2 separate regions of the Homo sapiens genome follow, and region 1 is linked to region 2. Evidence: fine-mapped expression QTL. A gene starts in region 2. The other region holds a variant in brackets. All regions are shown on one strand. Distances are between the middles of the regions.

Region 1 (16,536 bases), 28 kb before region 2:
CCTGGCCTGGGTGAGGATAAAGAGGCAGACAAGGCTGCCTAGGAAAGGACTAAGAACGGAGGAGAAAACTACAGGAGTGGGGCACAGAATGGAGAGAAGGAGGGAGAGGTACAGATACGGAGAGCAGGTACAGATCACTTGAGGCCAGAAGTTCGAGACCAGCCTGGCCTACAGGGTGAAACCCCATCTCTACTAAAAATACAAAAATTAGCCCAGCGCGGTGGTGCATGCCTATAGTCCCAACTACTCGGGAGGCTGAGGTAGGAGAATTGCTTGAACCCAGGAGGCGGAGGTTGCAGTGAACCGAGATTGCACCACTGTACTCCAGCCTGGGCGACAGAGCAAGACTCTGTTAAAAAAAAAAGTTTATAGCAAGCTCATTGGGTGCCAAGCCCTGAACTGAACCGACATGAAGCTATTCAGAGTGTGTTCACTCCACTCAGAGGGAAGAGTCCTGTGTTTCACTGTAGCAATATTACCGTTGTTTGATCATGGGGTGTGACCCCCAGACTCCAATGGGGATGTCACATGCCGGCTGGGCACATGCTCTATGTCACCTTCTCAAACTTGAAAAATTCTGAATTCCAGAACACATCTGACTCTGAGGCTTTCGGTCAAGAAACTGTGAGCTTGTGTTATTATTATTTCCGTTTTCTGGATGAAGAAACTGAGGCTCAGAGAGAATCGGCTGGGTAAATGGGATCAAGCAGGTAAGGCACTTAGTGAGGCGTTTACTTATACAGTAAGTGCTTAATAAGCACTAGAATTACTTATACAGTAAGTGCTTAATAAGCATTAGGATTAGTATCATGCAGAGGGTGCATGGTAGGGGTGAGGGGTAGGTGTGGTTGAGGGGTGATGCATGCGGAGTGTGAGGTGTGGGCTCAGGCCTGGGGTCGCCTCCAGATCTGGGATGAAGGGAGGAGCCTGGCTGAGTGGGCAGGACCCTAGCAAGGGGTGGGCAATAGAATTGGGTCCTATGGCTCAAAGTTGTCTGCCTGCTCAGAGGCTGACTCTGGGACCAACCCAGGGCTTTGGGCTTCTCCAGACACATTGTTCACATGCCTTCAGCAGCCAGTCCACCCCACCCTCCTTGTAGCCCAAGCCTGGGACTGAGCCCCCGACTGCCCCCGCAGCTAGGCAGGAAGGTCTGAGCACTGCACAGTCCCCAGGGCGGCTGCAGCTGCCCAGGGCCAGGCTCCAGGCATGTGGGGATGGAGTGAGCTCACCCCATCAAAATCCAGAGACAGTGCAGGGGCGGGGGGACAAAAGAGCTCCTGCCTGCCCACCTGCCTCCCTGCCACGGTCACCACAGGCTCTGCCTCAGTGCCCCTTCCCCTGCCCACTGCCAAGGAACCAGCAGACAATGTGACCCATGGTCCCCAAATCTCTGGGGAGGGACATGAACCCAGACAAGGTCCCCATCCCCCTCTGCCAGGATGCAGGCTCCTAGGTAACCCCAAAACAAGTGCTTCCCCTACTCGGCTGCAACCCAGGCCCCAGACACAGGATCAAGGTGCCCTGCCCCACCCCCAGGCCACCCAGTGCCCTGTCCACAGGCGACAGACAGCACACAGGAAGGAATCTGTCGGGGCAGCACTTTGTTGTACAAACTGCCAGGGGCTCAGAGCCCGACACAAAGGCCAAAAGGCCTTTAATCCCCTGGCAGTCTGAGAGGGGCGCCGGGCCGGAAGGGAGGTGGCCACAGCCTCCTCTGGCATGCTTGTGCTGCCCGTGCCACTCGGGAGGCCTGCCAGCTTCTCACACAGGGGCCCCCAAGGTGGCAGGAACTTCACCAGCCAGTCAGCCAGGAGAAATACGGACGCCCCCAAACAAGGAGAGGGTCCAACACGCATCCAGGGCTTCTTTGTGCCAGGGGCTGAGCTAAGGTCTTCACAAGACTTACGTCACTCAGATCCACCACAACCTCACGAGGGAGACACTGGAGGCACACTCATTTGATAGATAAGGAAACCAGGCTCAGAGAGGTACAGTTACCTGCTCCAGGTCACACAGCAAAGGCAATGGGAACGGAGTCTGAAACCAGGACTCCCCTCTGCTGGGTTCATGCTTCTGTATTTGGCTAGCTCAGAGGCACAGCTGCCAGCAGGGCCCTGCTTCTGACCTCTGACCCCTTGCCCTCTGTAAGCTCATATCAAGGCCTGCAACCTGGAAAAGCTGCATTCCATCCAGGGCTTCTCGGGAGCGCTGGGGCAGGTCAGGGCCTTCAGCGGAGGCCCAGAGGGCAGGAAGCTGGGGTCTGGAGTTTCTAGTCCCAGCTTAGCCCCGCACTCACCACGTTGCCTTGGACAAGCCCCTGCCTCCTTTACCTTTTAGCTAACTTTAGTGAGTCTCTACTGTATGCACTGGGCATCCACACCCACCATCTCAGTCCATGTGAACAACACGTGGAAGGCAGTGACTTTGATCTGTTTTGAGCATTGCTGCAACTCCACAACAGAAAACACACAGTAGGTACTAATAAATCTGCGGACTCACGGACAAACCAAATGAATGAACCTGCCCAACAGCCCTGAGGTGGAAATTAACCCACCTGACAGAAGAAAGCTAACTTCAGAAGGAGACTTGCCCAAGATTACACAGCTTGAAAGTGCCAGAATTACCTCTAGTCCTCAGTTCCCATTAATACGACAGAGGCCATAACACTTCATCCTAAGGGAAAGAGGGGACTAGGTCACACGGGCCCTGAAATCCGTTCCAAGACACCCCTGTCCCTGCAGAACAATCCCTCCAAGAATTAGTTCTCTCCGCTATGAAATGGGAGCAAAAGGCCGGGCATGGTGGCTCACGCCTGTAGTCCCCGCACTTTGGGAGGCAGAGGCAGGCGGATCACCTGAGGTCAGGAGTTCGAGACTAGCCTGGCCAACATGGTGAAACCCCATCTCTACTAAAAATACAAAAATTATCTGGGCGTGGTGGCGTGCGCCTGTAATCCCAGCTACCCTGGAGGCTGAGGCAGGAGAATCGTTTAACCCAGGAGGCAGAGGTTGCAGTGAGCCAAGATTGCGCCACTGCACTCCAGCCTGGTCAACAAGAGCAAAACTCCATCTCAAAAAATAAATAAATAAAATAAAATAAAAATAAATAAAATGGAAGCAAAAAAAGGTCCCCGCTTTGCCTCCTTCCTGGGGCTACTGGGAGAGGCATGTGGAATGAGGCGGTGATCTCTTTGAGAGGCACAGTCCCAATCTCTGAATCTGCCTGGCCCTTCTCCAGGCAGGCCCCATGTGGTCTCTGCCTTGGAGGCTCCTATGACATAGCTAGGGGTGGGCACCCAACCCGGTCTGGCACTGACCAGGCAGGGGACTGGCGAGAACACTTGACCACCAGCCGGTGGGGCAGAGCAGGCTGTGCTGTCAGACACCTCCAAGTCCGGGCCACCCTGGCCATATTCTAGCTAGGGGGCTTCAGCTTCCTCATCCTTAAAAAAAGTAGAATCGATCAGATCTGTCCCATTTGGTTCAATTCAAGTCACTTCAACCTCGACTTACGGGGTACCTACTATGTGCTGGGCCCGGGGGACAAAATGTGAAATGGACACAGAACTCCATGTTCCTGGGGGACACAGGCCACGGAACCACGTGCTGGCAACACCGTGCGAAGAGAGTGCTGAAGGGGAAGGAAGGGGGCCGGCAGAGCCCAGGGGAGGGTCCCCTCACTTAGGGAGGTGGCTGGGAGGCTGGGGAAGATTTCCAGAAGAAATGCTAACTCAGCTGGGCCTGAGAGATGACTTCACCTAAGCAAAGCAGAGAAGGGGAAGAGTGCGGACCAGGTGGAGGGAAGGGCACACGCTGAGGCCAGGGCTGGAGAGGGCACGGCACGTTCGCGGGGTGGGAGGAAGCCTGGTGCAGCGGGACACGCGTGTGAGTGGCAGAGGAGTCAAAGGGCGGCACGAGTGGGCTTTTCCATTTAAAAGGGCCGCCCCTCAGTTGTGCTGCTGACCCGGTGCTAGTCACAGAGGCCAAGTCTCCCCTGTACCCCCAGAGTCCCTGCACTCTCCTCCGTCCCCCACAGACACCCCAAGATTAGGTCTCCCCTGGTGGCTGAATGAGCTGCCTGCCAGCTTACAGGGAACCAGGAAGCCACCGGGAAATGCCCTTGCCTCACCCATGTGCCAGGTGTGGCCAAGGCGGTGGGGGTGGCCTAAGCGGGAACAGCTTCTGGACTGGGCTGCCCAGCAAGAAGGTCCCTGGGGGTCGAACACTATCTGCCAGGCACCACGGCTGCCGGCAACACCTGCAGCGTTCACGTGCCAGCCTCCTGCATGCAGCCTGGCTTGGTTCTCAGGTTCTCCGGCTCCCAGCTGCCCTGCTGCCCTGGCAGGTCTGTGGGGCTTCAAGGGCACACCAACCTGGTTGGGCCTGCCCATACCCTCCTGGGTCACTGCCCACAGATTTCATGAATGATGCCCCTTGCACAGTGCCAGGACTATGGAAGGATGGGCGGAATGTTCCACAAAGTTATGTTGCCATGAGACACCACTAACAACCACGGCCGCTTCCTGAACCTGTCGGGTTAGGCCTTCCCACGACTCCTGACTCACCAACGGGTGAGAGGAAAAGCCCTTATCATGGCCAACCAGGTTCTATGTAATCTGTCTACACACACACCCACCACCCACCCACACACACACACACACACACACACACACACAATCATGGTCAACCAGGTTCTATGTAATCTGTCTACACACACACCCACCCACACACACCCACACACACACACACACACGCCACGCTCCAACCTCTTTTGCTACTGTGCTCCCCCAACTCCCTGCCTTCTAAAATAGCCACATGCATCCTCTCAATAGTCGTCAAACACACCAAGCCCCCTGCCTGGGACACTGTCCCCACATATTCCATCACTCGCTCCACTTCTTCCAGTTTTTGCTCCAATGTCACCTTTCAGCCGCGCATGGTCGGTGCCTCACGCCTATAATCCCAGCACATTGGGAGGCCGAGGCGGGTGGATCACCTGAGGTCAGGAGTTCGAGAGCAGCCTGGCCAACATGGTGAAACCCCATCTCTACTAAAAATACAAAACTTAGCCTGGTGTGGTGGCAGGCGCCTGTAATCCCAGCTACTTGGGAGGCTGAGGCAGGAGAATCACTTGAACCCAGGAGGCAGAGGTTGCAGTGAGCCAAGACTGTGCCATTGCACTCCAGCCTGGGCAATAAGAGTGAAAATCCATCTAAAAAAATAAATTGTTGAATTAATTAATGAAGGCTGAGACAGGAGGATTACTTGAGGCCAGGCGTTCAAGACCAGCCTGGACAACATAGTGAGACTCTGTCTCTACAAAAAAATTAAAAATCAGCCCGTTGTGGTGGTGCACACCTGTAGTCCCAGCTACTTAGGAGGCTGAGGCAGGAGGACTGCTTGAGCCAGGAGCTCGAGGCTGCAGTGAGCTATGATTGCACCACTGTACTCCAGTCCGGATAAAAGAGTGAGACCCTGTCTCTAAAAACAATTAATTAGTTAATTAATTAATGGGGTTTATAAGTGAGGAGCCTGAGGCTCAGAGAGCTAACTTGCCCATAGTCACAGGGTTGGAAGAACCAAGACTTGAACCTAAGACCCCTGGCTCCACACCTGGAAGGAACTCCATACCACCTGGTCCCGCCGATGATGCCTGGGACTTTCCTGCTGGGAAGCCCATCTCTGGGGTGACAAGAGGCTGCCCATAGTCACTGAAGAGCATCCCGGAGGGGTGGGTGGGGGCCTCGGAGGCGAGCAGGGGCCAGAACTCTGGCTCCAGGGCCTTGCGCAACACAGCCAGACAGCCAGGCCTCAGTGACTGTACTCAGCGCTTGTTCCCGTGGGCATCGGCAACAGGAAAAAACAGGCTGGAACAGCCCGGCAGCTGTGGCCAAGGAGGTCGGCTCCCCCTGCCCCCAGGCTGGGCTTTCCTCATCTGCTGTAAGGAAGAAGAGGAAGGGGCAGGCAGGGCCAGGCCCATGGCTGAGATAGGCCTGTGGAGAGCAGAGCTGGAAATCAGAGCAAGGGGTCCTCGTCCTGAAGCGCCCCATGTCTGCTTTCTTCATGTCCTTTCCTGGACACAGAAACTCTCGGATGGGAATAGGCGCGGGGGAGACAAACACATCTGGGAAAGGCTGGTTACACAAAGCTGAGCTGCCTCCCTAAGTCCTAAATGACTGAAGCAACATGATGGGACTGGGGGGTGGGGGGGGGTCACGTGCAACTATTTGGTGTTTCCCAAGTTGCTTAACTTGGAACCTTTTATGTATGCAAGGCTCACTAGACTAGGGTTCCACAGAACACACTTTGGGAACACCACCCCAACCATCCCGCCTTTCCCTCAAGTTAGCCTTAAGTAAGATTTTAGACGTAAGATATGCTCCCCAGTACCCAGGGGCTCTGTAAAGGAGGCTCTTGAAGATAAGAAAAGCCGCAAGGCCCCATGGAAGGAAAAGCGGGCTGGCGGCCGGCTAGCTGGTAGTAGGAGGGGTGTGTTCTCTCTCCTCAGGGTGATTGACACCTGTCACCTGAGAAATCCAGACACAGCCTGAGCCTTCCCTCCCTGGCCATCAGTCTGCTCTCTCAGGGGGTGACTCCTGTCGGAGGTGAAAGAGAAGGTGGCCCAGCACCCAGTCATTCCTGGTCCGCTTGGACCCTCCAGAAAGTCTGGAGGTACCTGTGCCCCAGAGAGAAAGAGAGCTTCGTTCAGCTGCTGAGTGCAGAGACCGGGGCAGGGGCTCACTCCCAGGGCCGGCGACCATGCAGGTAAGGGGGTGCTGGTGCTCTTCAGGGCAGCGACTGAGAACAGGGCTCCCAACCAGCTCTGCTCGCTGGTCCCTTCCCTTCTCTGGGCCTCAGACTCCCCTCTGTCCGATGATGAAGCAGCCCTAGGTCATGGCTCTCCAGTCCATCCTCAGCAGCCTCAGGGCCACTCTGGACAGGAGTGAGGTGGAAGCGGGGCACCGTTAGAGTTTGGGCCCCTTCCCAAACACTCACTTTCATCAAAACACATCCAATTTTTTTTTAACAGGGTTCTGCTCTGTCGCCCAGGCTGGAGGGCAGTGGGCCTCCTCAGAGCCTCCTAGGCTCAAGATATCCTCCTGCCTCAGCCTTCCAAGTAGCTGGGAGTATAGGTGTACATCACTACATCTGGCTAATTTATTTTTTGTAGAGATGAGGTCTCGCTATGTTGCCCAGGCTGGTCTCGAACTCCTGGTTTCAAGCGATCCTCCTGCCTCGGCCTCCTAAAGTGCTGGGATTACAGGCATGAGCCACTGTGCCCGGCTACAAATCCACCTCTTTCCTTTCTATATTCTCACCTACATAAATATCTGGTTCAGCCCTTGGTTAGCTGTGAGGCCATGAGCAAGTCATTTCTCCTCTCTGTGCCTCCGTTTCCTCATGTGTAAAATGGGCACGATCATTCATAGTAATAATATCTATCTCATACGGCTGTTGTGAGGGTTAAATACAGATGTAAAATGCTACAGATAACACAGCACATGGTGAATGTTCTATAAGTGTTTGCTGCCTTTCGGCCGGAACCGCCATCTTCCAGTAATTCGCCAAAATGACGAACACAAAGGGAAAGAGGAGAGGCACCCAATAGATGTTCTCCAGGCCTTTTAGAAAA[C/T]ATGGAGTTGTTCCTTTGGCCACGTATATGCGAATCTATAAGAAAGGTGATATTGTAGACATCAAGGGAATGGGTACTGTTCAAAAAGGAACGCCCCACAAGTGTTACCATGGCAAAACTGGAAGAGTCTACAATGTTATCCAGTATGCTGCTAGCATTGTTGTAAACAAACAAGTTAAGGGCAAGATTCTTGCCAAGAGAATTAATGTGCGTATTGAGCACATTAAGCACTCTGAGAGCCGAGATAGCTTCCTGAAACGCGTGAAGGAGAATGATCAGAAAAAGAGAGAAGCCAAAGAGAAAGGTACCTGGGTTCAACTAAAGCGCCAGCCTGCTCCACCCAGCAAAGCACACTTTGTGAGAACCAATGGGAAGGAGCCTGAGCTGCTGGAACCTATTCTCTATGAATTCACGGCATAATAGGTATTTAAAAAAAAAAAAAGACCTCTGGGCTGTTAAAAAAAAAAAAGTGTTTGCTGTGATTATCTTTGTTATTTTGATTAAAATAAGGGTCTCACTGCTTAATGAGTTTGAAAGCCATCAACTTAAACGACCCCAAAGCTTCCTCTGGTTTTGATATTTTAGAGCACTGACACTCTAAAACATTAGGATTCTAAAATTCTAGGCTGTGTCCCACCTGCAAAAGGAACAGGGCTAAAGGAGGGGATTACAAAGTCAGGACAGGCTGGGTGCGGTGGCTCACGCCTATAATTCCAGCACTTTGGGACTGGTGGTCAGGAGTTCGAGACCAGCCTGACCAACATGGTGAAACCCCGTCTCTACTAAAAAATACAAAAATTAGCCGGGCATGGTGGCACATGCCTGTAATCCCAGCTACTTGGGAGGCTGAGGCAGGAGAATCGCTTGAACCCGGGAGGTGGAGGTTGCAGTGGGCCAAGATGGCGCCATTGCACTCCAGCCTGGGCGACAGAGTGAGACTCCATCTCAAAAAACAAAAACAGAAACAATGTCAGGACAGAGCCAGAAGGAGTCAGGCTGCAGAGACCCGCTGAGCAAAGGGTCATCATCACCATCATCCTCATCATTCATTTATACCTCCCCTCTTGCCCTGTTCCAAAAAGGCTGCAGACAGCTTACAAAGATGCACACTTAACAGCCAAGAGAATATTAACTAAAGAAATATAAGAAAAACTCAGGCAGGGCAGGCAGATGGAGCCTGGAGTGAGGCAAGCAGACAGAGAGCACATGCTGAATCCCAGAGATCTAGGAAAGGGACAACTCATGTGGCCCTGAGCTTGCCAGCAGCCAATGGGAAGAAGGAAACCTGACCAGTCCCTAGATTCCATGTCTCACAATGTAAAAACAAACCAGTTGCTTAGAAAAAGCACAACTATCCCTGATACTGAGAGCAGGGAATGTCCCAAGGGACAGGCTTGTCTGGCACCCTTCTCTGCCTCATCAGTGGGGCTGGCATCCCCTCAGAGTCTGCTGACCATGACCCTTTGAAGCTGAAGCCAGGGGCAGAGGCTACAGTGATCAAAGATTCAGGGAGCTGGAATGGCAGTCCAGTCAGTACCCCACCAACCTCACCCCAGCAGCCTTGGTCTAGGCAGGATTACCCATCACTCCCCAAACCCGAACACAGCCAGTGCCCAAAATAGCTAGAGCAGGAGAGGGTGCCAAGAGGCCCTGGCAAGGGCCTGGGCTAGGCCCACCTACAGGAGGGCCCAGTGGGCCAATGCACACATACCTCTGGTGCACAAAGAGGCACCTTCAGTCAGGCACAGAGCCGTCCCTGGGAGTCCCCCACCCACCAGGCTCCCCCCTCAGCTGCACGTTGCTCACGCAGAACTTGAGCTGCTGCTCCACCCTTCCCACAAAGCAGGCCTTCCTGCCTGAGCCAGACTAGAAAAGCCTTCCACAGAAATGCCACCGCACCATATAGGGAAGTGCCTGAAGACCTCCCCGCCCCACCTCCAGAATCTGCCAGAATCAGCCCCCTCAGGATCCTCCATGGCGATGTTGGTTCCTCCCTGGGTCCCCCAGCTGCAGACCAACACAATGGGGGCTATTCTGGGCTGCACGGGGTATTTAAAGCTCTGACTGGGCCTCCTCCCTGGGGAACAAAAGGCCTTGCCCTCCGTAAGACCTTCCTGAAATTGTTCCTGCCCAGACTGTGGTGGCTGCATCCTGTACTGTTCCCCACCTCCCCTGCCAGGCCCTGAGGCCCTGTAAGATTCAGCACAAAATGCCTCCTCCAGGAAGCCCACAGGGCTGCCTCCTGTGCTCAGCAGCACTGCCTGAGACCCTCAGAAAAGCTGGGTCCTGGCTCAACTCTGCCATCGATCTTCTCTGGGTCCCAGTTTTCTCATCTGCAAAATATGGATGTGAATCCCAGTGTGTGAAAGCACTCCAGAGGCTTCCATGGTTAGGATGAGTAGTGTCTCTCCAGCCACTTTGTGAAGCAGAATATAAGCAGGAACGGGAATTGGTCTGTTTTGTCGCTGCCCTTTTTCTAGCACCTGGCACACAGTAGGTGCCAAATAAATATTTACTGACTGATACAAATATTTAAAGAATGTGTCTGTAGCCTCCATAGAACCACCCAGAATGCCAGGCACACAGGTGGTTAATACCCTCGATGGTAACGTTGCCAGCTCTCAGCTTGAGCACAAAGAACACATCAAGCCTTATGCTAAGTACCTGATGTTAATTATCTGATTTAATTTGCTCAACAGTCCCAAGAGGTCGGTACCATTATCTTATTTCACAAGCAAGAAAACGGGAGTTCCAGTCCAGGTGGTTAAGCAGCTCGCCTGAGGTCGCAAATGGCCAAGCTGGGAGTCAAGCCCAGGAGCCCTGAAGCCCCTGGCATCCTGCGCCAAATGCACATTGAAGAAAGGCAGTCGGAGAGCACTGGGTGGGGAGCCAGGAGCCTGAAGTCAGCCACTAAGCTGTGTGACTTCAAGCAAGTTGCTTGGCCTCTCTGAATCAGTTTTCTCTTCCATAAAAACAAGGGCATGAATTCCTCTTCTTCAGGTCGTTGGTAGGATCAAAGGAACCAAAGATGTGACTCTGTCTCCCACACTAGCCCCAGCCCCTCCCCAAGGGCAGCAGCTGTGAAGGATGGTGGGAAGATGTACTGGGAGGAGGGGGCTACCCAGAGCTGGCCCCAGAACAAAGCTCCACAGCTGCTGACAACAGCTGGGGAGAGCTCTGGGCCTGGCCCAAGCAGGGGGAGAATGGGCAGGCTGGGAAGTCACCTCTGGCCCTCCTCTGTCACCCTTCCCTGCTGACAGCTGCTGAGGCCTCAGGGCCAAGGGCCCCAGAGCAGGCAGGGAGTGGGGGTGTGGAGGGGGTGGGCGGGCTGGCTGGGGTCATCTTAGTCCTCATGCTGTCAACTGCTCAAGCCTCAGGGTGCCTGGCCTCGCTGTCCCATAGCACAGCCCTTTACCCAGTTCCCTGGGAAGCCTGGGTGGAGAGGCCGGAGCAAAGGTCTGGGGCTGAACATGCCTTAACTGGAGCCTGGCCTGCTCCAGGGCCCCCGTGGGGAGGTGCAGGGCCGGGAGGGAGGGAGTCCTGAAGAGGCTTGCAATTTCCCTGGTGCACAGCCCCACTGCAGGCCCTTCAGGAAACGTCCCTGGAGGCTGTGAGCTTGGCCCACCCCAGCCCATCTCAGCCCCCTCAGCTGCCGGCCAGCCCAGCTCCACTCCCAGTTCGGTGCCAAGCCTTTCCAGCCCGCTCCAGCCCACGCAGCTCTCTCTCCTCTGAACTCTCACATACCCATAATTACAACTGACCATATTTTCCAAAGCAGAAATCAAGAAACCACTAAATAAAGGATTTCTGGGCTACTTCTGAGTGTCAGAGGCAGCCTGGGAGGTGAAGTTTGGATGCAGAGGTATTCAAATCTCTGAGACACGTTGATAGTTTTTTGCGATGACTACTATATCTATCATATTTTATTAATAAGTCAAAGCCATCCTAGGAAATGTGTGTTGGGCACATGCCACCCCATACCACTGTTAACTGTTGACTGGACACTTTAGCCTGGCAGTTTCCTAGCTGTGTGGCCCTGGGCAAATCACTTGACCTCTCTGAGCCTCTGTGTCTTCATCTGTAAAATGGGAATAAAAATGACCCCCTCACAAGGCTGCCGTCAGAATTCAACAGGACAACCTAAGTGCTAGTATCAGGCACTTACGAGGTGTAAGTACCACTTCTTCCTTCTCTCCCAGTCCTATCCACCCCAGAGCTCACACACCAAGTGAGTGAGCTCTCCAAAGACCCCCGGGGAGAATGAGACACAAGAGAAACCTGCCTGCAAAAGGTTCCAATGCATTCCTGGATCCTGTACTGTCCAAGCTGGGAGGGATCACCTAGCCAACACCCTCACTTATCAGATGGGGAAACCAAATCCCAAAGAAGGGAAGTGAGCATGTTATGGGGAACCAACCAGACTTGGAGGGCCTGGGTTCAATCCCATCTCTGACACTTCCGGCTGCTGGGGAACTTTATCACTTTGAGCCTCATTTTTGTGCCTCCCATACCCCCATAATGTTGGATTAATAATTATTGCTGGGCGCAGTGGCTTGTGTCTGTAACCCCAGCAATTTGGGAGGCCGAGGCAGGCGGATTACTTAAGATCAGGAGTTTGATACCAGCCTGGCCAACACGGTGAAACCTCATCTCCACTAAAAATATAAAAATTAGCACAGCATGGTGGCATGTGCCTATAATCTCAGCTACCTGGGGAGCTGAGGCAGGAGAATCACTTGAACCCGGGAGGCGGAGGTTGCAGTGAGCTGAGATTGCACCACTGCACTCCAGCCTGGGCGAAAGAGTGAGGCTCTAGCTCAAAAAAAAAAAAAAAGCTGGATTATGTATACAGAGTGTTAAGAATGGTGCTTTTGGGCAGCCGTGAGAAGAGAGAGGAGCCTCCCAGCAACTCGATTGGCAGAGGCAGATCCAGGACCCAGCCTCTTGGTTCCTAACAAAGGGTCATTTACCTTTCACGAAGCCACCTCCTCCTCTCCTTGGGGCAAGGATTCTCAAAGGCCAGGATAAGGGGCTACACAGATGAGGCCTCTGGGAGGGTGGCAATGGGCTAGGTCTTTGTGGGGGTGCTAATCAGGGCCAGAGCCCTCAGTCTCAACCTCTGGCACCCAGAGCTGGTCCCTCCAGCCTGTCTTCAAGCCCCAGTCAGACAGGCCCAGCCTAGGAAATGGCAGGAAGGGCTGGCAAGGGAGGGATGCCGTGTCCTTGGCAAAGAGAATGCGACATCCCAGGGACTCGGGTTACCGGAAATGGTAAATCTCCCCGCTGCCTGTCACCTTCGACCAGGAATGTCTGCTGCCCCAGGGAACATCCTGTCCACCTGCCCTCAGACAGCCCACGGACAGCCAGGAACCTGGACCCACTCTCTGCTCCCTGCCCAACCCCCAGGCCTTAGGTTAGCTGCTGGGTCCCCCCAGCCAAAGGGTACCTGTCATTCTGGGGCAGTGAGCCCGGCTGTAACTAACTGACCAATCCCAGGGAAGGAGCCATCCTAGGAAATGTGTGCTGGGCACAGGGAAGGAGGAGAAGGCTAGAAGGGGAACCCCCAAAAGATTGAGAGCTACCCCCAAATCTGATCCATCCAATCCCATCATACGTGGATTCTGAGTCCCCAGTTTGGATGAAGGCTCTGATCTCATAAACCCAACACAAGAGGCAGTACAGTGTGAGTTCTGGGTGGGACTAACCCAGCCGGAGGCATGGCTCTGCCGCTTGCCAGCTGGGTGGCTCTGGGTAAGGCACTGCAGTGCCTTCCGCCCTCAATTCTAATACAAAAGTGACAGCAGCCTGTGACAGGAACCTGTGAAATTTGTGGCGCTAAGCTGTGAGTCATTTAGCCCAGGATCTGGTGTGTAGAGAGGGCCCAGTAAACAGTGGCTATTAGGTATTGGGAAGTATTAGAAAGAGAAGGGGGAAAAAACAGTAATCATTATAGGAGCAGGTACTATGAGCCACACAATGTTCTCTGCCCTTGCTGGTGCTGACCGTCTACTTGGAGACCGATGGACCATAAATTAATACCCCAAATATACATGTCAAATGGTGAGAGTGCTGAAAAGGAAATACAGCAGGGTGAGGGGACGGGGAGTGGCCTGTTGAGGGTTGCTATTTCCCTGGGTATGGAGGGTGATGCTGACAGAGCAAGTCAGGTGCATACTTAGAGGAAGAGCACCCAGGCACCAGGAGCAGCATCTATAAAGACCCCAGAGGCAGGAGGAGCCTCAGAATGTTTTGGAAAACAGCCAGGAGGCCGGTTATCTAACCCCCATGACTGCCCTGAGAGCTAGGTGTAATTGTCTCTATCCCCCGGAGGAGAATCTGGCAGGGCCAGGATCTGACCCTCCATAGCCAGGTGTCCAGGGACGACTGGCTTCACAACTCCCATGGGGAGGAGCAGAAAGGTAGAAAAGCGCAGGTGTCTGAGTCCAAGCTCTGATTCTTCCAGGGATTGGCCATGTGATCTCAGACCAGCTGCAGCTCCTTGCAGGGCCTCAATGTCCTTGTCACTCATGGGCTAGAGATGCCTGTTCCATCCACTTCGCAGATGACTTTCTCCTCCCCAAAAGGAAGGGGAGGAGAAAGGATGGTGCTGGGAGGTGACCTTGAGCTTCTCTGGCATCTCAGGCCAAAGCTCCTCCCCGGGCAGGTGTGAATGCCAGGTGCAGACCCTGCCCACCTGAACTGCCCAGAGCAACCACCTGCCTGACCCCCAAAAGCTCACATCCTGCCTATGCCTGCCTGGGCCTTGTCCCACTCAGCACCCAGAGCCCAGCCACAGCCACGGCCTCTGTCCTGCACTCTGGTTCTGGGTGTCAGACGTCCCTCACCCCCAGGGCCCAGCCCAGGACCGGCTCCTTATGTTCCTGACCAGGCGGAGGGTCCATGATTGGCCTTTGTTACCTTTGTTACCAAGGGTGCCAGCGGGCCAGCCCTCACGGGCACCCGGCCAGATCGTGAGGCCCAGCCAAGTGCAAACAGCACACTTGGCGCCCTGATACGGGCGCGTTAGAGCGGGCAGGGTGCCCCCGTCACAACAAACCATCATCTCTACACCGCTAAGGGGCCCAGGCAGCCGGCACCTCTGCTGGGAGCTGGGGACTAGGGACTGCCAGGGGAGGCCTCCTCCCCTTCTCCCACTGGGAATGGGTAGTGGGAATTTCGGAGCCCGGACATGGAGATTCCAGATGCCAGCAGCTGAAAGGGCAGATATGCAGACAGGCTGCAGGGAGCACGTGGGAAAATAACAGGGGCAGAGGAGCTGGATGAAGGCAAGTCATGGAGTTTTTCACATTATGGGTGTGGTCAGGCAAAGGGAGAGTGAGAGGCTGCCGAGAAGAAAGCAGGAAGAGCCCAGCAGAGAGAGGAGCAGCAAGAAGAACCAATGAGAGCTGGAACGGTTCCAATATGGGACAGGGAACCAGGGATAATGACCACAGCAACTCCTTCCAGCAATACCCAGCACTTAACATACACAGCGCTTCCGACAGAACTTTCTGGTGCAATGGAAATGTTGCGTGCCTGCACTCATCCAATAAGATAGCTACTAAGCGCTTCAAATGAGGCTAGTACCATCAAGAAACTGAATTTTTTGCCGGGCATGGTGGCTCACGCCTATAATCCCAGCACTTTGGGAGGCCGAGGTGGGCGGATCACCTGAGGTCAGGAGTTCGAGACCAGCCTGGCCAACATGGTAAAACCACATCTCTACTAAAAATAAAAAAAATTAGCTGGGCGTGGTGGTGTGTGCCTGTAATCCCAGCTACTCGGGAGGCTGAGGAAGGAGAATTGCTTGAACCTGGGAGGCAGAGGTTGCAGTAAGCCGAGATCACACCACTGCATGCCAGCCTGGGTGACAGAGCAAGACTCCATCTCAAAAAAGAAAAGAAGAAGAAGAAAAAAAAAAAAAGGCCTGGCACGGTGACTCACGCCTGTAATCCCAGCACTTTGGGAGGCTGAGGCGGGCAGATCATGAGGTCAGGAGTTGGAGACCAGTCTGGCCAACATAGTGAAACTCCATCTCTACTAAAAATACAAAAAATTTGGTTGGGTGCGGTGGCTCACGCCTGTAATCCCAGCACTTTGGGAGACCGAGGCGGGTGGATCATGAGGTCAGGAGATCGAGACCATCCTGGCTAACACGGTGAAACCCTGTCTCTATTAGTAATACAAAAACACAATTAGTCAGGCGTGGTGGCGTGCACCTGTAGTGCCAGATACTCGGGAGGAGGAGGCAGGAGAATGGCATGAATCCTGGAGGCAAAGCTCGCGGTGAACCGAGATTGTGTCACTGCACTCCGGCCTGGGCAACAGAGCGAGACTCTGTCTTAAAAAAAATAAAAATAAATAAATAAATAACACAAAAAAAATTGCCAGTGTGGTGGTGTGTGCCTGTAATCCCCGTTACTCCAGAGGCTGAGGCAGGAGAATTGCGTGAACCCAGGAGGCAGAGGTTGCAGTGAGCCGAGATTGCGCCATTGCACTCCAGCCCAGGCGACAGTGCGAGACTCCATCTCAAAAAAAAAAAAAAGAAACTGAATTTTTATTTAAAACTTTATTTAATTTTAAATTTTGCATTAAATAGTCACGTGTGACTAGCAGTTACCATATCAGACAGTGCAGATTATACCATCATTGATCCTTAGGCCAAGGCTGGAGATGGAGCTATCTCCATTTTACAAAGGAGGAAACTGAGGTTTGCCAAGGCTGCACAGCTGTAGGCTGCAGAGGCAAAATCGGAACCAGGCCTGGCTCTGCCACAGGGCTCCCCACCCATGGTTATTGTCAAGGCTGGAAACGGCTAACGGAAATCGAACATGTGTGGTGATAAGGCTGCCTCGTTAATCAAGATATCAAGTCTGTCTGCTTTTGGCCTGAATTCTGTCAGCT
Region 2 (8,461 bases):
TTTCACATGCTCAAGAAACAAAGCCTTGGTCAGGCGAGGTGGCCCATGCCTATAATCCTAGCACTTCAGAAGGCTGAGGTGGGAGGATAGCTTGAGTTAAAGAGTTTGGGACCAGCCTGGGCAATACAACAAGATCCCATCTCTATTTGTTTTAAATTTTTATATTCATTAGAAAAGAAAAGGCTGGGTGCAGTGGCTCACGCCTATAATCCTAGCACTTTGGGAGGCCGAAGGGGGTGGATCATTTGAGCCCAGGAGTTCGAGACCTGCCTGGGGGAACATGGCAAAACCCTGTCTCTATAAAAAATACAAAAATTAGCCAGGTGTAGAGGAGGGTGTCTGTAGTCCCAGCTACTCAGGGGGCTGAGGTGGGAGGATCACCTGAGCGTGGGAGGTTGAGGCAGCGGTGAGCTGTGATTGTGCCACTGCACTCCAGCCTGGGTGACAGTGTGAGACCCTGTCTCAAAAAAAAAAAAAAGAAAAGAAAAAGAAACAAAGACTGGTATAGCTGGAGGAGTTTGAGAGGAGCAGGTGGCAGGAGGCCGGGTGTTGCAGGGCCTCGTAGGCTATATTAAGTCAGGGGCTGGGACCTAATTCTGAGCACCGCAGGGAGGTGGTGAGCAGGAAACACAGGTGAATGGGAGGATTCACTGAGAAACTCAGAGCAGACAGTGGGTACTGGGTAAGTCTGAAGTACCCGTATTACTGTGTCATCATCCAGCCTGGCACCCCAAGAGCTCCTTCCCCTCCACTTTGCTCACCCGTCTTCCGGGCCCTGAACCCAGTCACCTCCTGCCACCTTCTTTCCACCGTCTCCCGGGCAGGGCTTCAGACCCACAGATCCTAACTTGTCTGCGCTCAGCCTGAGAGCAGGCCCGGGCCAAGCCAGGCAGGGGCCACAACTCCCCAGACAGGGGGAAATGGGCCTAAGGGATGGGGGGGTGGTCCATCTCTGCCCCTTCCAGCTTCTACCCTGCAGACAGACCTGCAGCCTGCCCTCCTTCCCTCCGGGAATGTCCAGGGCACACTCAAAACCCCATCCTGTGCCGGCTGCAGGTACGGAACAAGTAGGCTAGTGTCAGGTGACAGAGCAGCTGGCTGCGTGGAGGAGGGCTGAGGGACCGCCAGGAAGGGGAGGCTCCTGCAGTTCAGCTGGCAGCCTCCCCAGTGAGGAAATCCAGCTGAGGCAGGAAACAGGTATCTCAGCGACTTCCCTCCTAGGCCCTGGAAAACACCTTAATCACCACCGAGGCTCCCTCAAGACGCCTGTCCCCTGCAGGGCCGCCCTAAAGGGGTCAGCAGGCCAAGGCCTGCCGAGTCACCCAGGCCCAGCCCCCTCCTCCAGCAAGCCTCCTCACCTCCCAACAGCTGAAATTACACCCACACTTAATCACAGATCAGCTTCCTGTGGTCCTGTCCCCCGTCCCGGGGAAGCCTGGAGCTCCCTAAGGCCCATCTCACCCTGCTGCTGTGCCCAACCCTTCCCCATAAGCCACTGGCTCCGGACCAAACTGAAGGGCAGATGAGAGCAAGGGTAGCAGGCAAAGAGGGTCCAAGGTGTGCTGGGAGCCTGGGCTAGGAATTGATCTCATTTTTGACTTGCAACAAACTCCTCAACCCCATTGTACAGATTTGGAAACTAAGGCTCAGAGAGAGGAACTCGCCCCAGATCACACAGCCAGAAACCGCAGCCCAGAGACTCATACTTGGGTCTGTAAGACTTCAGAGACAGGCCAGGCATGATGGCTTATGCCTGTCATCCCAACACTTTAGGAGACCGAGGCGAGAGGATCGCTTGAGGCCAGGAGTTTGAGACCAGCCTGGGCAACAAAGTGTGATGCCCTCTTTTTTTTTTTTTGAGACAGAGTCTTGCTCTGTCGCCCAGGCTGGAGTGCAGTGGCGCGATCTCGGCTCACTGCAAGCTCCGCCTCCCGGGTTAACGCCATTCTCCTGCCTCAGCCTCCGGAGTAGCTGGGACTACAGGTACGTGCCACCATGCCTGGCTAACTTTTTGCATTTTTAGTAGAGACAGGGTTTCACTATGCTGGCCAGGCTGATCTTGAACTCCTGACCTCATGATCCGCTCGCCTCGGCCTCCCAAAGTCCTGGGATTACTGGCGTGTGCCACCGCGCCTGGCCCCGAAAAACTTTTTATTGTTTGTTTGTTTTGAGGCGGAGTCTCACTCTGTCACCCAGGCTGGAGTGCAATGGTGTGGTCTCAGCTCACTGCAACCTCCGCCTCCTGGGTTCAAGCGATTCTCCTGCCTCAGCCTCCCGAGTAGTTGGGATTACAAGCATGCGCCACCACACCCGTCTAATTTTTGTATTTTCAGTACAGATGGGGTTTCACTATGTTGGCCAGGCTGGTCTCAAACTCCTGACCTCGTGATCCGCCCACCGTGGCCTCCCAAAGTGCTGGGATTACAGGCATGAGCCACCGCGCCTGGCCTGAAAAACTTTTTAAAAAGAATTTTATAAAGAGACTTCAGGGGCCAAGCTCTTTCCAGCCCACCACCAGCAGCCTGGGGTGGGACAGCGACCCTCCATGTGTTGCTGAGAAGGCTCTCTAATCCCACAGGATTGGAGCTGCCTGTTTATTTGTCTAAATTACCGCCCACCAGCCTGTGAGTGCTGGGAAGGCACAGACAGGGCCTGTCCTTGCTGGTCCAACCCACCCCAGCCCCTAGCACCACACGAGGTTCACTGGTTCACTGGCACACAGTAGGTGCATGGCAAATATCTGCCCAAAGAATGAACCTCTGTACTCCCAGTGACTGCCATGGAATGTCGCTCAGTGATGATCTGTTGAATGAACAAGTGAATGAGATGATCTGCCACGGTCCAGGAATGTCTGTGGAAATTCCTCATGCACACAGCAAACAACTCCACCCACCGCCATCCTACCGCACCCGGGCATGGAGGAGCCCCTCATCGGGGGCAGAGCTGGGGGAAGGTCAGGAAAGACTGTTGGGCCTCGGAAAACATCCCACGTGCTAGGTTGGTGCGTTGGGAAAAGTAAAAGTCAGTGCCAGGAGTGCAAGTTCAGGTCAAGACTAGGGAGCTACTGGATGGCCCTGCTGAATATTTTGGGGTGAGAGGCTGAAACAGGAGGACGACAGAGGAGGCTGCCCAGAGTGGGGATGGGGGAGGAGAAGTGCTGGGTGGGTGGGGCAAGAGCAGTGAGGAGCCAGGTCTGGGTGGGGGCTTGACGAGTGACTCAGGAGGGTAGAGGTGCGATGAAGCCAGGAAGGTGAGGCCAGGCAGGCAGTTCCTGGGTAAACACCAGCCTGGTTAGAAAAGTCCCTCTCTTGGCTCAGAGAACAGGGAGGCAGGTATGGGGACTGCCTAGGAGCACCTCGGAGAGAGTGGGGGTGGCTCTGTGGCTCCCCACGGTAGGCTCGGCTCCCCAGATGTGCCCCCACCCACATCTGCCACTAGCTCCCTGCCCACCGACCCCACCCAGTCCTCCTCAAGTTCACTCAGGTCCTCAGGGCCTCTGCTGGCCAAGTGCCTTCTAAGCCTCGGGATTCCTGACCGTAGAATTCCCTTTTCCTCCACCTAAGCTCAGAGTAGGGGACTAGACTGCAAGGGCAGGCCTCTCCCTGCCTCTTGGAGACCTGGGAAGAGGAAAGCTGGGGAACTCGGGTCCCCCAAGGGTGCACTGCATCCCCGCACCACGCACTTTGCAGCTCATTCCACGCAGTCCAGCAACGCCCTGCAGCTATGCATTTTGAGGCCGTGCATTTTGAGTTCCCTTGACCCACGTGGGGCTGGCCTCAGAGAGGTTAACTAGCGTGCCCCAGGTCACACAGTTACTCAGTGAAAGGCAGGGATTGATTCAACTCTTCGGCTGTATGACTCCAAGGCCCGTGGGTGTTCCACACAAGCTTCAGTTCTGTCCCAAAAGTTTTGCTTGTGCCTACCTGGGTCCAAGCTCCCCAAGGTGATAGACGGTGTGGTAAAGTTTCAGCGAGACTCATAGGGTCCCCATCACCACTGAGTGGCCGTTCTGCCAAGCTGGCGCAGAAGGGTTCCCTCGTCCTGCCAAGTTCCCACCCTGCTCAAAGTTTCCCCTCCTGGTCCCCAGGAATGGTAGGCCGGACCATGCCCAGCGAGACTCCAGCACTCGGCAACGTGGCCGAGAGACCCACGGGCTCCCACACGGGCCAGCCCCGCCCCCAGCCCCACGAAGGGTCCTGACTGGTGGCCCCCCTGGATTAGCCCCATGCCGCAGGGTGGCGCCGGCCCGGGGTCCCCGGCGGGCGCCGCCGTCCCGGGCCAGAGTCCCCGCCGCGCAGCCTTGGGCGCCCCAGCCAAGTTGGCGGGAGGCGGCGAGCGGGACCGGGGCGCCCCTAGCCCCTCCGCCCCCGCCCCCCGCCCCTCTGCCCCGCACACTCACCGCCAGCAGCCGCCCGTGCAGCAGCAGCGCCAGCAGCAGCGCGCCCGCCGCCCGCCACCCCATGGCCCGGCCCGCGCCGCTCTCTCGCTCGCTCGCTCCGCGCCGCCCGCTCCGCGCCGCCCGCAGCCGCCCGCTCGCCGGCCAGCTCGGGACAGCGCGGCCCTCTCCCCACCGCCCCCTTTCCTCCCCGCCCGCCCCGCCCCCGCAGCGCCGGCCCCGCCCCCGAACCGCCCCTCCCCGGAGCGCCAGGCCCCGCCCACGGACCGCCCCCGGGCCGCGGGCTCTGCTCGCCCCAGCCGGCCGCGCAGCCTACTAGGCCTTTGTCTGGGCCCCCAGCCCCCTCCGCGCGGGCCGCGGCCCGGCCCGGCTCCCCGCCAAACCCGGCCTGGAGTATGGGATGGGACGGGGCGGGGGACCGGGGGCCCGGGCCCGGGCATGGGATGGGGCCGCCGGGCCAGGCGCTCTCGCCTCCCCGATCCCCGGCTCCCCCGCTTCCCCGCGCGCGCCGCCGACTTCCACGCCCCTGCACGCCCCGCACGGCCGACTCCACTCGCGCAGCTTTTGAAGATCCCGGGATCTCCTTCCCACGCTCACACGCACGCAGCTGCCGCTCCGCGCCACACGTGCACGCCAACTTCCACACCCAAGAACACCTTCACACCATAACTTTACTGCACGAACACACTTGTGCGCTACCCGGGAACACTTTCACACTCTGGACCCAACTCTGAAGTACCAACAATCCTCACCGGCTCACATGCACACTTAACTCGCTTCCAAACTCTCACCTCCACCAGGGACACAGGAGACAGCCCTCACACCACACTCAGCCCCTCACTCACGCATACATCCCAACAAGTCACGGAGCGGGAGGACGCCTTTTCACATAGATTCCTCGCAGGCACGCACATTTCACACACAGGCCCACATCATTGCCTACATGCTTACCAGCTTGTTTTTTTTTTTTTTTTTTTTTTTGAGAAGGAGTCTCGCTCTGTCCCCAGGCTGGAGTGCGGTGGTGGGATCTTGGCTCACTGCAACCTCCGCCTCCGGGTTCAAGCAATTCTCCGGCCTCAGCCTCCTGAATAGCTGGGATTACAGGCGTGCCACCACGCCTGGCTAATTTTTGTATTTTTAATAGAGATGGGGTTTTTACCATGTTGGCCAGGCTGGTCTCGAACTCCTGACCTTGTGATCTGCCCGCCTTGCCCTCCCAAAGTGATGGGATTACAGGCATTGAGCCACCGCACCCAGCCTCAGCCTGTATCTTTTACCTGTTCTCACCCACTAATCACAGTGCCTCATAGTGGGCACTGGGTACTGAACTGAGCTGCCCACCCCACCTGCACCATTTTCCATGTAAATCACTCACACACCAACTTTGAGTCACATAAATCACAGCCCCAGAGCCAGAACCACACCAACTCACACACTCAGGCCCAGACAGACAGACCCTGCCAAAGCCCCATCACAGATGCTCGGGTGGGTGGTAAAATCACAGCCCCATGATCTGTCTCTGACCCAACCGCAGGCAGCAAACAGCACCAAGCCCCCAGACCTATTCACTGCCTACTCTTCAGCTCCCCTCTTCTGCCTGAAATTTCCAGGGCAGCCCGAGGCTGATGGGTGGAGAGGAAAACTATGTGTGTGTAGCTTTGAGGAAAACCTTTTGAGTAATGATAGAGGAGGAGAATAAAACTGAAGTTTCCATTGTTTCCTGTGAGAGTTGCTAGGTTCCAGAAACTCATGGCTGGGTTTGCAGCCAGGAGTGAGGTGAGCTGTGGACAGAAGGAAATGCCCAGCTCACTGGGCGGCACCAGGCCTGGCTCCGGAAGCTATGTTCCCTGTGATAGGGGTCCGCAGGCTCCCAAGCACATTGGGGCCTCTCATCCAGGCATCTGGGGGATTGAAAAAACACTGGCATCCTGACCCCCATCCCAGATAGATCCCCTATCTCCAAAAGATATCTCCAAAATATGCCCTGTGGGGCATATTTCTGTGGGACCAGCTCAGAGTTGTAAAGAACAGAAATTGCATCCACGGTAGTCAGGCCAACTGCCTGGCCCCAACCCAGGCTCCAGGCACAGCACTGAATAAGGTCTATCTCTGATCCGCACAGGGAGATAGGGGTGGACAGAGGAGGGACGCCCAATCTTGGCCCTCAGTAAACTCTTAATCTGATAGAGGTGTGGGGAAGAATAGTCCCTGTCCGGGTATTGTTCTCAGTCTGATAGAGAATCCTGCCTCCACCACCTAGCCGTGCAATCTTGAGCACATGATTCAACTTCCATGTCTCAGTCTCTGCATGTAGAAAATGAGAATAACGTTAAGACGTCTCTCTTAGTGTTGTTATGAGAATTAAGATAAATTAATATATTTCTTTTAAAAAACACAGCCATTTCAGACACTTGGTAAGCATGAAATAAGTGGTAGCCATTTCTCTTATTACTATTTCTGGTGTGCTCCCAATCTAAAGAGAGAGACATGACTTGGCCCTTGGGGAGCTGAGGTCTGATAGAGGAGCAGCCTCCACAGCCACCCCAGGGACCTCCCATTTGAGGGGAGAGTACACCAGGTTTGCACTTGGAAACTCCCTGTCCGATGAGAAAGGCTTCAAAACTCCACTGACTTCAGAGCTGGCAGGTGGCCAGCCCTAGTGGCAGGATTTTTCCAAGGCCTTGCCTGTCCATGGATTTGTCAGCATCCGTGACAAATCGCATTTCATGAGCTGCCTCAGTGTCTGTTCCCTACCTCGGGCCCTTTAAGTACCAGAGCTTTGGCTTCTTGGATGATTTGCTCATGAGCAAAGGGGGAAAAAAAGGGAAACAAGCAACCCTTTGTAGATGTTTGGTCAAGACTAACCCAGAGCTATAAGTCTTCCTTCCTCAAAGGGGTTGAGGAAAGAGATGGTAAGGCCGACTAGGGACTGGAAGGAGCTGGGCTGACACGCAGAAAGCAGGAATATATGGCATGTTGAGAAAGTCTTCCAGGGCGGCTCCAGCAGCGGAGGATTGGTCATCCACCTATTTATTCTGTGTCCTCTCCTTCCCACTAAGGGATTTGCCTGGGTCTGTTTTAGTTTGCAGTCCTTGATATCTTTAGCAAATGCTCTCAAGTTGCTTTGTCTAGAGCCTGGCTATCTCCTCATATGGCTAAGAAGAGGAGCAGGCACAAGGCCTTCTGGGCTTGGCAAAACCTTGGAGGCGCCCATAATCTCACTGTATGTACACAGAGTTCAGGGTGCTGGTCACACTCGAGGAGAGAAACAACTCAAGTCTCATACAAGGTTCCCTGGGCACGGAGAGACTACAACAGCTTGGATAGGCAGAAATAGTCAAACAGCTTGACTTCTGAGAATAGGTGTTGGGGGTTCTGGAACCAGCAGCTGGAGTTTGTGGCTTACCTGTCCACTCCTCCAAATTCAGTAGGACTCATCTTCTGGCTTCCACTCCCATTCCAAATCTTTTCTCTGCCTGAGAGCTTATCATTCATCTTAATCACATTCCTTTGTCCATTCATTCATTCATTCAGGGCTGCAGTGGACAGTTGCGCAGGTTGTTCACTGAACAAAGGTGTGCAGCCAAGTGGGTAAATAGGAACTGTAATGGGCCCTGTTGTGGGGCTACATCTGCCCAGAATGGGTACTTTTTTTTTTCTTTTTGAGACAGAATCTTGCTCTGTTGCCCAGGTTGGAGTGCAGTGGCACGATCTCAACTCACTGCAACCTCTGCCTCCTGGGTTCAAGCGATTCTCCTGCCTCAGCCTCCCAAGTAGCTGGGATTACAGGCACATGCCACCACACCTGGCTAATTTTTTGTATTTTTAGTAGAGACAGGGTTTCATCATGTTGGCCAGGCTGGTCTCGAACTCCTGACCTCAAGTGATCCACCCGTCTCGGCCTCCCAAAGTGCTGGGATTACAGGCGTGAGCCACTGCACCCGGCCCAGAATGGGTACTTTTTGCTGATATGAGTGAAGGCACTGTAAGGCTAGCTGTGGCCCTATATTCATTCAATAGTGAAACTAAACACTGCCCACGAGAGTTTCTATGTCCATGTGGGAA

Evidence for each region. PIP is the estimated chance that this variant, and not a neighbour inherited with it, causes the effect.
Region 1: its variant is fine-mapped to the expression of HSPG2 in whole blood (TOPMed, PIP above 0.99).

Annotation. Positions count from the first base shown.
Region 1 is chr1:21,900,529-21,917,064 of GRCh38, forward strand. All of the region lies in intron 1 of HSPG2 (heparan sulfate proteoglycan 2), which reads right to left. It also overlaps the pseudogene RPL21P29. Among named protein-coding and RNA genes, the nearest start is that of HSPG2, 29 kb to the right of the region's middle. RefSeq lists enhancers at 8,889-9,605, 9,320-9,369, 9,430-9,489, 9,540-9,609, 9,606-10,321 and 1 more and a silencer at 14,864-15,019. The variant C/T (reference allele first, on the strand shown) is at 7,633.
Region 2 is chr1:21,932,756-21,941,216 of GRCh38, forward strand. It overlaps HSPG2 (heparan sulfate proteoglycan 2), which reads right to left and starts at 4,555. Exons shown (of 97, transcript NM_005529.7): 1 at 4,400-4,555. The coding sequence starts at 4,462. RefSeq lists an enhancer at 3,005-3,846 and a silencer at 4,594-4,943.